Linked DNA regions of Homo sapiens: region 1 is linked to region 2. Evidence: fine-mapped expression QTL. A gene starts in region 2. The other region holds a variant in brackets. All regions are shown on one strand. Distances are from middle to middle.

Evidence for each region. PIP is the estimated chance that this variant, and not a neighbour inherited with it, causes the effect.
Region 1: its variant is fine-mapped to the expression of EXOC4 in lung (TOPMed, PIP above 0.99). The same link has a PIP of 0.9 or more in thyroid and whole blood.

Annotation. Positions count from the first base shown.
Region 1 is chr7:134,061,947-134,070,218 of GRCh38, forward strand. It overlaps EXOC4 (exocyst complex component 4), which reads left to right. Exons shown (of 18, transcript NM_021807.4): 18 at 2,345-3,815. The coding sequence ends at 2,582. Among named protein-coding and RNA genes, the nearest start is that of LRGUK, 61 kb to the right of the region's middle. The variant G/C (reference allele first, on the strand shown) is at 3,114.
Region 2 is chr7:133,247,897-133,256,167 of GRCh38, forward strand. EXOC4 (exocyst complex component 4) reads left to right here and starts at 5,182. Exons shown (of 18, transcript NM_021807.4): 1 at 5,182-5,291. The coding sequence starts at 5,206. RefSeq lists enhancers at 4,949-4,998, 5,209-5,268.

The DNA.
Region 1 (8,272 bases), 810 kb after region 2:
TTCAAAAGATTTACTGATCTGGCACTGGGGTCTCACACCCCTGGAAGTGGAGTTTTATCTCCCCTTCTACCAAGTATTTCTGTCTATATTCAGGGTCACCCTGGACCAGTGATTGCTATGTGTCTGGTTCTGTGATGCCAAAATGAACACTCGTTTAAAACCACTATAGAAAATTAGCCCCCTGTACACAAGGATGCTGACTGATTTGCTTGCAGGAGAGCTTCATTAACTTACCAATCTACAAAGAGCACTTTCCATTTCTGCCACTATTTAGAGTATATTCACAAAAGATTATTCTCTCCCCTATTTTTAAAAGAGTGTGTTAGTTAGAAAAGGAGGCTTAGCAGGAGGAAAAGAAGCTAACCGTGTGAAAAGACACCACAACTCTTCCTGACCACATTCCCCTTGTACCAGCAATTCAATAAAACAGGCCTGAAATTATGGAGCTCCTAGAATGTATTTCTTACCACAAAGATAGCTTCATTTCCCCATAGGAGGTTCTTTTTTTCAAAATGTTCCTGATGAGAAAGAAACAAATTCACGGCCCTGAGTCTAATAATACAGGATTTCTGAGCCACTCATCCTGCTAGGTCTGGAAGATTGCTTCGTCTCCAAGAGTTGCCTTGAGTGCACTGCCTGGTTCTGTCCCCTCGATCTTGGCAAAGTTACCTTTCACGTCAGAGAGAAGTGAGTAACACTCTTCATTTTGCTGACAAGCTGTGATAAGCCTTCCTGGCTCAGAGTCTGTGTTGAACTTGACCTCCTGGGTAATTTGGAGTGGCCATGGAAGTCACAGCTTCAGAGTCCAGTAGACTGAGAGATAGCAGTGGCATAGTATTGGTTTAAAGAATGGTGAGTGGTCATCTTCTCCCCTTCCTGACTCCCACCTTCATCTTCCTGCTGCATTGAAGAATCCCTATAATGCATATTTCTATTACAGGCACAAGTCTTCCTCCACCAAAGGACAGAGCCAGGCCAATGGCCTTGCCGTTAAGTGGCTCTCAAGTCTCCTCTTTCTGCTAGAATTGTAACCAATGCCCTGCCAGACCATTCTGCGTTTGATTGTCACAGTAATCTTCCAGAAGCACAATTTTGAATGGCACCTCTGCTCTCTGGAAGAAGGAAGTCCTTTATTGGCTTAACTAGGTCTAAAATCATAGCCTGATGTTCAGAGGCTCTACCCTGTGGCTTCAAATGCCTCATCCCAGGACTCTCTGCTATTGCTCTGCACTCCCCAGTCTAACCAGATTATTCTTCCATGCCTTTGCTCATGCTCTTCCCTCCAACTAGAATTTCTTTCCTGGAAGCCCTGCCTGACAGAATCTTACCCCACAGGAAGTCTTCCTCAGTCCCACACCATCCCCTCAGCATGGTGCGATTTCTCCTCCTCTGCTATTAACGCACGGTACTAGGACCTCACTTATGGCACACAGAATATTCTTGTGAGTTGTCAAGTGTCCGTGAAAAAACAGTCTTGAACTTAGAGTCAGAAACCTGGGGTCAGATCCTGGCATGGTCAGTCCCTGTCTTTGTGATGTGGGCAAGCCCTCTAACTTCTCTGTGCTTTCGTCTTTGTATCTGGGAAAAGGGAGGTGTAGCCCCTGGGTGGAGTGAGGGGTAAGTGGCACAGTGCTCGGGAATGAACTTGGTCAACAGCACTGGAATCCTTATGTCTCTGCTTTTCAGGACCTTTCCTCCTTGTCTCCGAGCTACTTGAGGAAAGGGGCTGTGTCTTGCCCATCCTTATATACTACTATTAATTTTATTACATTACTGTCACACATTAGCATCATTATAGTTCTAATAATAATAATCTTTATGAAGCACCACCATTCTGAGTGCTTTATACGTATTAATTAATTCAACTATTTCAATAACCCCAAGAGGTAGGTACTATTATTAACCCACTTTATGGAGCAGAAAACCATGTACAGTATTTTACAAAACCTCCAATGAATAATGAATGAATGAGGGATTGAATGAGACAAAACCTGTTAACAATGCCTTCTCTCCTTCTTCAGGCTATACCCCTACTTTTCTTTCCTTTCTCCCAAGGTAAATGCAAAATTAGCAAAAAAATGTAGAATGAGCTGAGCCACAGAAAGGTATGCGGCCTCCCTGGGTCCTCACTTAGACTTCTCCTGAAGAGAGCTCCCATGAGCTCCAAAGGACAGAGCTTATGGTTGTCCTGTTCTTTATTCTGTTGGTGGGGCCTAGAACACTGCCTGCTGATCAATCGTTATGAAGTAAGTAGAGGAATCAATGTATAGACAGCGTATTTGTCCCCTCGAGACGACGTTACCAGTGGGGAGCCAGTGAGCAGTGTTCTCTCTTGCTTTCTCAGGCAGTACTACGAGATGCTTTACAACACAGCTGACGAGCTCCTGAACCTGGTGGTGGACCAGGGTGTGAAGTACACGGAGCTGGAGTACATCCACGCTCTGACCCTGCTGCACCGCAGCCAGACTGGGGTGGGGGAACTGACCACCCAGAACACGAGGCTGCAGAGGCTCAAAGAGATCATCTGCGAGCAGGCTGCCATCAAGCAAGCCACCAAGGACAAGAAGATAACTACCGTTTAGCAGGGCGTACTGCGGTTGGTGACGGGGGTCCCCTCAGTCACACTCACTTTTTTCCTTGGTATGTTATTGAGTATATTCTGAGCTTAGTTTTCTCTACAGTGATACTTTAGTGGAGAGGAGGTGTAAGGATTCTTTCTCTCTGGTTTTGGCTTTTCATATAAATGCTAAAGGAAGGCGACAGTACAGAGTGTTTTGGTTGAACAACTACTTTAATGCAGTCAAATCTAACGGGACTAGGGTGGGATAGGGAGGAAGGTGGTATCAAATTGTTGGACTCTGAAAAACAAGTGGATGGATTACTAATATTTGATTTATTACTCAATATATATATAATTCCAGCCTTGGAAAGTAGGAAAGTAGGCTGCTACCTAACTTTTAGTCCCTTCCAAAACCATTTAGTAGGGTTCTATTACATAAACAGTAGGGTTTTTCCTCTCCTGACCTTATCCGTTTACAGTTCAATGAAATAAGTGTATGTGCATTGCTGTCTGTCTCTATTGCCAAAATCAAATAAATGGCTTCTCAGCTGCT[G/C]TTTACAACAAACTTCCCTAACCAAAACAGAACCTCTAATTTAGGGCTAGGAATAGAAGTCTTTTGATCCCAGTCCCTGGGACAGTTTTGTATGCTGTATCTTGTACACAGGTTGTAGGTTGGTTTATTGCCATTTTGTTTTATTTCTGCTGTATAAAAACCAAGAGCCAGACAATTAGACAACTATGGAGGAATGAAAGGCAATTCAAACATCTGCTTGATTCCCGCCCCGCCACCCCTAATTTCTGAGAGAATAATGGTTAGAGAACATTGCATCTCACTTGAAACATCCTTTGGGGGTAAATGATTCTTAGGTGCTCACTTGGTCTGAGCTCAGCTGAATGCAGGGAAGATGGGACAGAGTGACATTTCTCCTCTGTGCGGCCTCCAGCTGAGCCTGTCTCTGAATTGTTCCCTCCCCCGCAATGTGGGCACTTACCATGTTCCTGGCACACTGGACCTCACCATGTCCCCCGGTCACCAGTCCTCTTGCTGCCCATGGTTCATAGGTCATAGAAGGCAGCAATGCACTGACTGGGCCACATCTTGAAAACTCGTGGAAAGGGAAAGGGGAGGAGATGGGACTTTGACCACACACAGTGATGCCTCACACCCTGAAGGTGGGGGATTTTGTACCTGTTTGTACAACTTTGGTCTTGATGGGAAAAATGGAGAATTAAAAAGTGTTTTGAGAAGCTTAAATGTTTCATGTTATTTTTCTTGTGTTCTTTATTCAGCAAATATTCCCCAGAAGCCTAATATGTGCTCCATGCTACCACACACAAGGGCAAATGGATAGATGAAGAGGACACCCTTATTATCTAAGAGTGTGGGAACTGGACTGGAGCCAAAAATCCCAACAGCTCAAACTCAGGGCTGGGTCAGAATCAGGTCAGGCAGTGGGGCTGCCGGGAAGGGGATTCAGTGGGCAGCTGGAGGTTCCAGGGGATTCTGGTGGGAAAGAATGTAGTCAATCTGTCTGGCTCCAAGGGCCTGACTGGGAAGAAGTTGAATCTCTGTAGGAGACAACTGTGGAAAAACATACTGCCCTAAACGATATCATGAGAAATAGTCTACCCTAGAAGCAGGAGTGGAAGAAGGGGGGATGAGAGGAGATTAGGGTTGCCTAAGCTGCTGCTTCATGGCCGTGACCCCCAGCATTGATTCTGTACCTTTCCTTTTTCTTCCTGTCCACTCCAGGCGGAGAACCCGGAGTGGTGACAGTGATGGCAGCAGAGCCAGGGTGAGACTGAGAGTGCTCAGACTAATTTTCTTGGAAGTAGTGGAAAGCTCCGCTAAAAAAGAAACATGGGTTTGGATTGAGCAGAATGTCAAGAGCCCTGAGAACCAACCAAAAAATGGCAGATGAGCTGTTTCAGGGGCAACATTTAGGAAAGTGAAATCTCTGCTTTGCTTACAATGACGGGACTGAAAATGGCAATTCTGCACAGGAAAGGGACTGTGGGACTCTTCCAAGACATTTAGGACATCCAAGTTTCTTTGAAGGTTGGCACATCAGTCTTTATTCTTCCACAGGTAAAGAACAGCCAGTGACACACTCAGTGGGTGGTCAATGGCTACCTCACAACCTATATGCATTTGGGACACAGTGAAGATTTCCACATTTTGGTCCTACTTAGGAGTATTTTGTGAGGCTGTTGTGCTGTTTACAGCCTTGACCAACCAGAAAGTGCTAGAGAGAGCCAGGGTCTGCCAAGGACAGGGCCCACGAAACACATACACAGTTACGTAATGTTCTTGTGTGAAGACCTCTCCCTAAGTGTGCTATTGCAGATAAGAAGGCCAACAAAGGTCAGGCATGGTGGCTCACACCTGTAATCCCAGCACTTTGGGAGGCTGAGGCAGGCAGATCAGGAGGTCAGGAGTTCGAGACCAGCCTGGCCAACATAGTGAAACCCCATCTCTACTAAAAATACAAAAATTAGCTGGTGTGGTGGTGCACACCTGTAATCCCAGCTACTCAGGAGGCTGAGGCAGGAGAATCGCTTGAACCTGGGAGGTGGAAGTTGCAGTGAGCCCAGATCACACCATTGCACTCCAGCCTAGGCGACAGAGCGACACTCTGTCTCAAAAAAAAAAAAAAAAAAAAAAAAAGGCCAACGAAATACGCCTTACCAGAAGGGGTGCTGGAAACAAAGCAAACCGTTTTCTCATTCTTATACAGAGGTACAAATGGGAGGGATGTGTGGACTGCTGCCTGCATCACTAGTCACTGTGCCATGGAGTAGGCCCACGGGAGTAGGAGGGGTCCTGAGATGGGAAATCAACATGACCATGAAGAAGGAAGGCTTTGGAGTGATGTCATCCAACTTGGTTCTCAGAACAGCAGCTCCCAGAGAGCACTTCCTTCTAACACTGTTATCTACTCTCTGGTACTTAGCATGTGTTCCCATTTAGTCCTCACAGCAACCCTTATCATAAATATTACTTTCCTCTCTTCCATACCCAAGGGCCCAGAAACTACTGAAAGAATCTCTTTCAAGTTAGCCTTCGTTGGAATAAATTCCTTGAAAAAGAGGTAGTTCATCAGCTAGGACCCAACTCTTATATATATATATACACACACACACACACACACACACACACACACACACAGGCAATTGTGTTCTTGGAAGTGCTGGTGGTGGTTTCTTCTATATTTTTGGTTACTTTTAGCTATATATTATTGCCTGTCAGTATACCTTCCAATTTATAAATGAAACTACTCTTTGGGTGATATTGTGCCCCTTACCCCACAAGCACTTCTTTCTACCTGCTCTATTAATACAGGTTCTTTCAGGGTCTCTCATCCTAGGCGGTGTTTTTATTCCTACCTCACAGTAGGGCTTTGAAATCTTACTGCCCAACTAGAACATTTTCCCCCTCCACACTGATTTCATCCCAATAATTAGACAAGGATTGGTTCCTCAGGTTGCTCTTGCTGGTTAAGGACAAGTCCTGCTTCCAGGCTCTGAAAGACAAGTTTATTTTTTAGTATGTCCAGATCAGCTCAAGTTTAGTGGTAAGACCAGGCCTGAGCTGCTACAGCCCATACTCTTGAAACCCATCCTCTTGAAACTCTTGACACCACACTGGAAACCTTGTGAAAAGCCTCTGCTTTTCATGACCTTTCCTCCTTGTTTCTGACCTACTTGAGGAAAGGAGCTGATACAGTTTGGCTGTGTCCCCACCCAAATATCATCTTGAATTGCAGCTCCCATAATCCCACGTGTCAGGGGAGGGACCTGGTAGGAGGTTAATGAATCATGGGGGTGAGTTTTTCCAGTGCTGTTCACATGATAGTGAATTAGTGTCACAGCATCCAATGGTTTTATAAAGGGCAGTTCTCCCACACATTTCTCCTTGCCTACTGCCATGTAAGACGTGACTTTGCTCCTCCTTCACCTTTCGCCATGATTGTGAGGCCTCCCCAGCCATGTGGAACTGTGAGTCCATTAAACCTCTTTTTCATTATAAATTACCCAGTGTCAGGTATTTCTTCATAGCAGTATGAAAATGGACTAATATAGGGGCTGTATCTTGCCCATCCTTAGGTACTATTACTTCTATTACATTACTACTAATCTGGTGGGATCCTCTTCCAGCAGTTACTGCCCTCTGCAGAGTAACCCCATTCCAAGAAGCCCCACCCTCTCTCCAAGACTTTATTCTTGTCTGAATGTTTTCTGAGCCCGACGGTCCTTATTTATGTTTCAAATAGCTTGGGAGGAAAAACTCCAATACAGACAACTTGAATTGGCAACCAAACCCTAATGCTACTTACTGTCAAGTCATATCCGTGAATTTCGTAGCACTAATGCATTCATTCAGTCAGTCAAATAGAATTGCCTGTTACAGCTCAGGTTGATATGGGAGTCGGGCAATGACAGGCAAAAGAAACAGCCCCTTGTGACACAAAGCTTATACTTCCACTGGCTTCTTACAACTCCTCTCTGATCTACCCTTCCCAGAGTCCATATTTCCCCTCTCGATTCTCTGTGACCACCCTTTCATTTAGGAAGACAGCTCAAATTTCAGCCTGACTCTGTGCACTCTCTTCTGAGCTTTGCTTCTCTGGAAGCTTAGGACTCTCACGATCCACTGTGCCCCACTAGCTAGCACACCTAGCAGTTCACCCTTTACCAGTTCTTCTTCTTCTTCTCCTTCTTCTTCTCCTTATTCTCCTTATTCTCCTACTTCCTCCCTCCTCTTCTCCTCCTCCTTCTCCCCCTCATTCTCCTCCTCCTCCTTTCTTCCTTCTCCCCCTCCTTCTCCTCCTTCTCCTCCTCCTTCTCCTTCTTCCTCCTCCCTCTTCTCCTCCTTCTCCGCCTCTTCTCCCCCTACTTCTCCTTCCTCCTTCCTCCTCTTCTCCTCCTCCTTCTCCTGCTCCTCCTCCTTCTCCTTCCTCCTCCATCCTCTTCTCCTCCTTCTTCTCCTTTCTTCTTTCTTCTTCTTTGAGACAAGGTCTCACTCTGTTGCCCCGGCTGGAGTGCATTGGCACCATTTCAGCTCACTGCAACCTCTGCCTCCTGGGTTCAAGCGATTCTCACACCTCTGCCTCTCAAGTAGCTGGAACTACAGACCATGCCCAGATAATTTTTGTATTTTTAGTACAGATGGGATTTCACCATGTTGGCCAGGCTGGTCTCAAACCCCTGGGGCTCAGCCTCCCAAAGCGCTGGGACTACAGGCATGAGCCACCACACCTGGCCCCTTTACCATTTCTTGATGGAACTAATGGATTCCCACCCCACAGCCTTTATGAATGGACTGAGGCCATTGAATTCAGGATTCTTACTTTGGTGTGTAGCTGTGGCTGCCTCCCTAGGACCAGGGCACAGAAATTTCACAGTAACCAATGAGAGAGACCAGGGGCCAGCTCCAAGCCAGAGTCATTTCATTCAGGGCAGATGTGATCAGAAGACCAGCCAAGGGGCTGTCCCTCTAGCAGGATGTGAAAACAAGGAGAGTCCTGGTCAACACAATTTTGCTTGGAAAGCAAAGTGGGTGCTGAAATACCTACACCTGAGAGCGATTGTCTTAATGTGGCAGGAATGTAAAACAAATTGGACATAATTTGGAGGGAGGGTAATGAGGTACCACGAACAAGAAAACATAAAGAATCACTAGGCTCGGCAAGGTGTCAACCCTGTCCTAAT
Region 2 (8,271 bases):
TTTTTTTTTTTTAGATGGAGTCTCCTTCTGTCACCCAGGCTGGAGTGCAGTGGCACAATCTTGGCTGACTGCAACATCCGCCTCCCTGGTTCAAGCAATTCTCCTGCCTCAGCCCCCAGAGCAGCTGGGATTACAGGAGCTTGCCAACACGCCCCACTAGTTTTTATGTTTTTAGTAGAGACGGGGTTTTGCCATGTTGGCCAGGCTGGTCTCGAACTCCTAACCTCAGGTGATCCACCTGCCTCGGCCTCCCAAAGTGCTGGGATTACAGGCATGAGCCACTGTGCCCATCCCGGAAACTTTGTAAAACACAGAAAAGTGTAAAAAAAAAAAAAAAAATTACCCATGTTATTGACGCTCAAAACAACTTTGCAATAACCCCAGAGATGTATTTTCAACAAAATTAGTACCATACTTTAGTAATAATAGCTGATATTTACCAAGTGCTGATAATGTATATCTCACATATTCTTACAATAACTCTCTATGTGAAGTACAATGACCACCTGCTTTACAGATAAAGAAACTGAGGCAGAGTAAAGTTAAGTAACTTGTCCTAGGTAATCTAGCCAGGAAGTGGAAAGCTGGGATTGAATCTAGGCCATCCTGCTACACAAACTGCATTTTTTTTTAAGGTGTGGTGAAAAACACATAACATAAAATTTATGACTTTTGACTACTTTAAAGTTTATAATTTACTGACCTTTAATACATTCACAAGCTATGCAACCATTGACTGTAGTTCCAGAACATTTCATCACTCCAAAATGAAACTCTGTATCCATTGAGCAGTCATTCCTCATTTCTTCCTGCCCTGCAGCCCTTGGCAACCACTGATCTGCTTTCTGTCTCTATGAATTTGTCTGTTCTGGATATTTCAGATAAATGGGGTTATACACAATATGGCCTTTTGTGTCTGGCTTTTTTCTGTTAGCATGATTTCAAGATTTATCAATATTGTAGCATATATCAGTACTTTTTTCATTTTTATGTGTGAATAATATTACATTGTATGGATATAGCACATTTTGTTTATACCACACTGATACAGTCATATTGTTGCAGTTCATTCATTGTTAAACATTTGGACTGCTTCCACCTTTAGGCTATTTTGAATGGTGCTTTTATGAATGTTTGTATACAAGTTATTTTCCGAACACTTGTTTTCAATTCTCTTGTGCATATACCTATGAGCGGAATTGCTGGGTCATATGGTAACTTTATGTTTAGTTTTTTAAGGAACCACCAAATTGTTTTCTGCAATGGCTGAACCATTTCACATTCCCAAAATAAATGTACAAGGGTTCCAGTTTCTCCACATACTTGCCAACATTTATTTTCCATTAAAAAAATTGTAACCAACCTAGTGGGTGTGAAGTGGTATCTCATTATGGTTTTGCATTTTCCTATAATGATTAATGATGTCGAGCATCTTTTTATGTGCTTTTTGGCCATTTGTGTATCTTCTTTGGAGAAATGTCTATTCACATCCATTGCCTAGGTTTTAATTTTTATTTCCTTTTGTGTTGAGTTGTAAGAGTTCTTCACATAGTCTAGATACAGAACTCTTACCAGATACTGTATGTGATTTGCTTTTATTCTCTCCCATCCTGTGCCTGTCTTTTCACTTTCTTGAAAAGTGTACTTTGATGTATGAGGGTTTTTAATTTTAATAAAGCCCAATATACCTATTTTTTCTTTTGTTGCTTATGCTTTTGATGTCATAGCTAAGAATCATGAAAATTTACCCTTGTATTTTGTTCTAAGAGTTTTATCTCATATTTAGGTCTTTGATCCACTTTTAGTTAATTTTTGCATATTGTATGAGGTAGGGTCCATCTTCACTTTTTTGCTTATGCTTATCCAGTTTTCAACACCATCTATTGAGGAGACTATTCTTTCCTTATTGAATGGTACTGTCAGCTTTGTTGAAAATCAATTGACTGTTTGGGTGCGGTGGGTCATGCCTGTAATCCCAGCACTTTGGGAGGCTGAGGTGGGCAGATCACCTGAGGTCAGGAGTTCAAGAACAGCCTGGCCAACATGGCAAAACCCCGTGTCTACTACTTGGAAGGCTGAGGCACAAGAATTGCTTGAACCTGGGAGTCAGAGGTTACAGTGAGCTGAGATTGAGCCACTGCACTCCAGCCTGGGTGACAGAAAGAGACTTCGTCTAAAAAAAAAAAAAAAGAAAATCAATTGATCATAGATGAATAGGCTTATTTCTGTATGGCTTATTCTACTATATTTATCTATGTGTTTATTTTTATGCAAGTACCATGCTATTTTGATTACTGCGGATTTTTAGTAAGTTTTGAAATCAGGAAGTGTGAGACCTCCACATTGATTTTTTTTTTTTTCCAAGATTGCTTTGGCTATTTGGGGCTCTTTTAATTTCCGTATGAATTTCAGGATCAGTTTTTCTGTTTCTGCACAAAAAGCCTAGTGAATTTTTATCGGAATTACATTGAATTTGTAGATAGCTTTGGGAGTTTGGCCATCTTAACAATATTGAGTTTTCCAACCCATGAACATGGATGTCTTTCCATTTATTTGAGTCTTCTTGTATTTCTTGCAGCAATGTTTTGTAGCTTTCAGTGTAGCAGTCTTTCACTTTCATGGCTAAGTTTATTCGTAGGCATTTTATTCTTTTTGCTGCTATTGGAAATGGAATTGTTGTGTAAATTTCCTTTTTGGATAGTTTATTGCCAGTTTACAGAAATACCACTGATTTTCTGTTGCTATTGATTTTGTATTCTGCAACTTTGCTGAATATTTTATTAGCTCTAATAGTTTTTTGTGTGTATTCTCTAGGATATTCTATATATAAGATCATATCATCCAAAAATAGATATTGTTTTATTTCTTCCTTTCCAATCTGGATGACTTATTCATGTTCTTGCCTCATTGCTCTGGCTATAACTTGCAGTACTTTGTTGAATAGAAGTGGCAAAAAAATGGTTATCCTTTTTTTGTGTCTAATATTAGTGGGAAGGCTTTCAGTTTTTCATCGACTATGATGATTGCTGTGGGTTGTTCATAAGTACCCTTTATAGCCTATAAGAAGTTCCCTTTTATCCCTAGTTTTCTGAGTGTTTTTATTGTAAGAGTGTTTTGGATTTTGACAAAGCTTTTTTCTGCAACAGTTGAGATGATCACACACTTTTTATCCTATGTCCTACATTCTTTTTTTTTTTTTTTTTTTTTTTTGAGACAGAGTCTTGCTCTGTCGCCCAGGCTGGAGTGCAGTGGCGCGATCTCGACTCACTGCAAGCTCCACCTCCCGGGTTCACGCCATTCTCCTGACTCAGGCTCCCGAGTAGCTGGGACTACAGGCGCCCGCCAACACGCCCGGCTAATTTTTTGTATTTTTTTTTAGTAGATACAGGGTTTCACCGTGTTAGCCAGGATGGTCTTGATCTCCTGACCTCGTGATCCGCCCGCCTCGGCCTCCCAAAGTGCTGGGATTACAGGCATGAGCCACCCGGCGCCCGGCCTGTCCTGCATTCTTAACCACTAGGCCCAACTGCCTCTCCCTTTCTCTATGAATTATTTAATTTTATAGCCCAGTTTTTGTACTTATACCATAAAAATCTTTTTTTTTTTTTTTTTTTTGAGACAGAGTTTCCCTCTGTTGCCCAGGCTGGCGTGCAGTGTGCAGTGGAACGATCTTGGCTCACTGCAGCCTCCGCCTTCTAGGTTCAAGCAATTCTCATGCCTCAGCCTCCCAAGCAGCTGGGATTACAGGCACACACCACCACGGTCCGGCTAACTTTTGCATTTTTAGTAGAGACGGAGTTTCACCATGTTGGCCAGGCTTGTCTTAAACTCCTGGCCTCAAGTGGTCTGCTCGGCTCTGCCTCTCAAAAAGTGTTGGGATTACAGGTGTGAGCCATCACACTTGGCCCAAAAATCTTATTTTCTTTAAAAGCCATTAAAATTATGATTTCCAGAAGCTATATGTTATTTCCTCATTTGAATGTTACATAATTTATTTAATTCTTCTGTGTTATTTAAAAAATGTCAATACTCTATATTTCTTTAGGAACAAAGTCCCTAGAACTGGAATTATTGGGCCAAAGGTTATGAATACTTTTAAGTTATCGTGTGTGTGTGTGTGTGTGTGTTATCTTCAACTAATTTTTAAAAATGTGAACTTCTACCAGCTCGATGTCTATTTAATAAAAGTAATTGATGTGTTCTGAGCTTGCTGCTCACAACTCCATGACCTCTGAGTTAGTTTGCTTTCTATTCCTTTAAGTTCTTCAATCTTTATTGCTACTGAGCAGGCCACCTCCTTCCTTACTTTTAAATTATTATTATTCTTGTTCCTCAGTCTAACCACTTTCCACGCACATTCTGGTCTTTTTTGTTTTGTTTTGTTCATTTGGTCTTATGAATTAATGACTAAGCCAACGGAACCAAATGCAGGAAATACTAAAAACTTACCGGTAAAAGTATTAACACAAATGTGCATTACTACTAAGTATTTCATTTAGCTTGAAAAAAAAAAAAAAGGAATCTGCAGTGTGGTCTGTTTGTTTTTAGCTTATACTGTCTTTTCTTCATCAATATTCATTTATTCCTGTACGTGTGGTTTTAGAACTATCTGGAAATATAGGAACATTGGGAAAAATTGAACTCCACATAAACCTAATGTAGAAACATTAGTTTTACAGAATACTAAAGAAAAGCATTTCTGCTTATATTCATTTTCGTATTTTATTGGATTTTTTAAAAAATCACTTGCACTTAAGGCAAAAACTTCGCACATAGACATCCGGCAGAGAACCCCTCTTTCATTTAAATACAAACCCTAACACATTTTGGCATCATCAGATAAATTTGATTTAAAGCCTGACAAAATTCTAAAAGCAAGGAAACTGAAAAAAGCTGGAAGTCAGAATAAAGATAAATGAAGACACTCATTACAAGACTTAGGAAGTTGCAGCTGGTTTAGCTTTCCTGCGCGCCCAGGAGACGGAGAAGGAAAACTACGACTCCCAGAGTGCTTAGAGAGAACACGCGCGTCGTGGCCTCAAAACTTGCTCCCTTAGTCCCGCCTCCTCACTTCAGTGATTGGATTTTCCACTTCCGCGCCTCTGGAATTCTCTTCACCCATTGGTGGAGACTCCTGCGGGGTCAAATACAGAATTTACGCACCCTTGGCTTCCTTGGAGCCTAGCGGCTCTCCCCGCGTCCAAGATGGCGGCAGAAGCAGCTGGTGGGAAATACAGAAGCACAGTCAGCAAAAGCAAAGACCCCTCGGGGCTGCTCATCTCTGTGATCAGGTGAGGGAGGCAGGAGGCAGGGTCTGGGGACTGGGGGCAGCGGCTCGACCTCCGCTTTGGAAGGGAGAAGGGTTAGCTGGGTCCCACCCTGCTCTCCCCTTTCCTCCTTGCCTCCCGCAGCCCCTCCCCAGGGCTCTAACCCCTCCCCAGGGCCCCAGCAATTCCCCCTCCACCTTTTTTTTCTGGGGTTAGCTATAGAGAGAGGAGCCCCGCCTCAGTCTTTTCTTTAGGGGCAGCACCTTCTATTACAGTCTCGGGACCCCAAAGCACGCTATTTGGGTTTGGTAGAGAAAACCAGGTGTAAAGGTGTGTTTATTGATTCCTAAAATGCTTGTTTATTGTTTGCCTGTAGCAGCACTCACTGAGAAAGGCGTCTTGTTTCCTGGACTTTGGGGTGTAAGGCCTTGGAGTCCGGAGATTCCTGTCACGAGTTGCAGATTTGTGTTTTCACACTCTGGATACTTTCAACCACCTGTGCGTGGCCACAGCCACAAATACAAGAATCTGCAGTGAGCTGGTAGGAGGACTGGGTTTGAAGGCACACATCGGTTTTCAATTTTTTGCCCTGCCTCCGCATTCTGGTCCATTCCTTAAAAAACAGAACCAAACCAATTTCAAATTATCCTCCATGCACTGCCCCTCTGCACCTCCCAGAAGATTAGGGTGGGGGTGGAGTGGGAGCGGTGGATCTTTTAGGAGCTTTTTTTTAAAAAAGCGAAATATATTGAGGATGGGGGAACCCTTTCAAGAATCTTGGATATGATGCAGGTACTGACTAAAACCAATCTAAATAAAATTTATTATGGCACGTTTTTTACGTTGTTGGCATTTGAATTTCAACTCGTTTATTTTTCATAAACAAACACTCTATTTTTCCCCACCTATACTAAACTTTTGTTTGAGTTCTTGCAAGTTTTCTGGAATGTATTGATCATCTTTTCAAAACCCAGGGCCCAACATTATCTGGTAGGTACTAAGCACTTCAATGAATGCATGTATCAAACCATTAGAACAGCTTACCACTCACTGACAAAGACACATCTTATGGGTCTTATTTAGGAGGCTTTAAGATTATGGCCTATTAAATCATTACTTTAATTTTCTTTTGGGCTTAAGAGAAAAACATCTCTGTGTGGAAATGCTTAATATACTTGGTAGGCCATACAGAGGAAGTGCTGTTGTATTGTGAATCTATAGGCCCACATTCTCGCTGTGACAATACGCAGGTAGTGTAGATGTATCTCATGATACTAAAATTCCAATAAGAATGTTTGTTGTTTCCCATCTGAATTTCCTGTGGAATTAGAATACCAGGACATTATTTGGATCCTTTTTTGAACTTGTTTGTTTTTTCTACCTTATAGTCAACATTTATTTAAACAATAGGTATTTAGTGCCAGTTGACAGTATGGCGTCTGGCACGTATTACATATTGAATAATATTTGTTGACTTAATGAGTAAATGCCCTGAGTTTTGCAAAGATGAAGCAGGCACAGTGTTACCCTTGAGGAGAGTATAGTTTACCTGGGGGATAAAACATGTCAGTAAAAATGATGACATAAGACTACGAGAGAGACATGAAATGTTATGGAAATCCAGGAGGAGTGGCTGTTTCTAATGAAAGTGAAATGTGTCATCTCATCTGTGTACTTTTGATTCTCCAGGCTGTTCCCATTTCTTTTATGCTATTTGTATTTTCCTCAGGGCCAGTTGAATTTACTCTAAATGTCATATTTTTGAAAACAGCATGAAAGCCAACCTAAAGCTTTTTTTACTAATGCTAATTCAGAACATACATTGCCTTTGCTTGACCATTCCTTAATATTCTCCAGGAGGAACCCCCTACTGCTTGATGGCTAAGATTTTGTGGTTATCCATCCATCTCTTATGCCAGTTTATTAATATATGACCTTCATTTTATCACTGTGATTTAGGCCTAGGTATTTTTTACTTTGATCTCTGTTGTGCATTATATTGCTTTTCTTTTCTTTTCTTTTCTTTTTTTTTGAGACAGAGTCTTGCTCTGTCCCCAGGCTGGAGTGCAGTGGCGCGATCTCGGCTCACTGCAACCTCCGCCTCCCAGGTTCAAGTGATTCTTCTGCTTCAGCTTCCCGCATAGCTGGGATTATAGGCGTGCGCCACCACACCCACCTAATTTTTGTATTTTTGGTAGATACAGGGTTTCACCATATTGGCCAGGATGGTCTCGATCGCTTGACCTTGTTGTCTGCCTGCCTTGGCCTCCCAAAATGCTGGGATTACAGGCATGAACCACCGTGCCCAGCCCTCATTTTTCTACTTTATCCTTGACCACCTCAGATCACTGCATAACACTTTTGTGATATAGTTTTTACAAGCATGGTGTAAGGGAATGTCTAGACCTAGTATCCTGGGCAAGTTTATTAAGGCTTGGGATGCATTGTTATATATGACCTTAAGACCGAATGGTGTTGGTGTTTGTATTTCAACATTTCTTTGAGTCACAGGGAGATTTTGGTGTTGGAGTGAGGATGTTGGTAGCTATAACTTCCTGTTATTTCCTTCCTAATATGCTTTTGAACATACCCAGTGGTTTAAATTTTATAAACAGTGGTAGTGAATGAGAGGACAATGGAAGTATTACTTTGGTGTTTGGGATGGGGAATGGGGGGAGAGTCCTGCGGGTAAGAGAACCAGGAATGTATGTTTCTTGTTAGTAAATTGTGCTGTCACTTGGAAGTTGCTTCTTGTATTTCTGTTCAATTTATGTCCTTTGTGTTTCCCTTCTTGCAACATTGTATTCATTATTCCTTTTTTTTTTTTTGAGACGTAGTCCTGGAGTCTCTCTCTGTCGCCCAGGCTGGAGTGCAGTGGCGCAATCTTGGCTCACTGCAAGCTCCGCCTTCCGGGTTCACACCATTCTCCTGCCTCAACCTCCCGAGTAGCTGGGACTACAGGCATGCGCCACCATACCCGACTAATGTTTTGTATTTTTAGTAG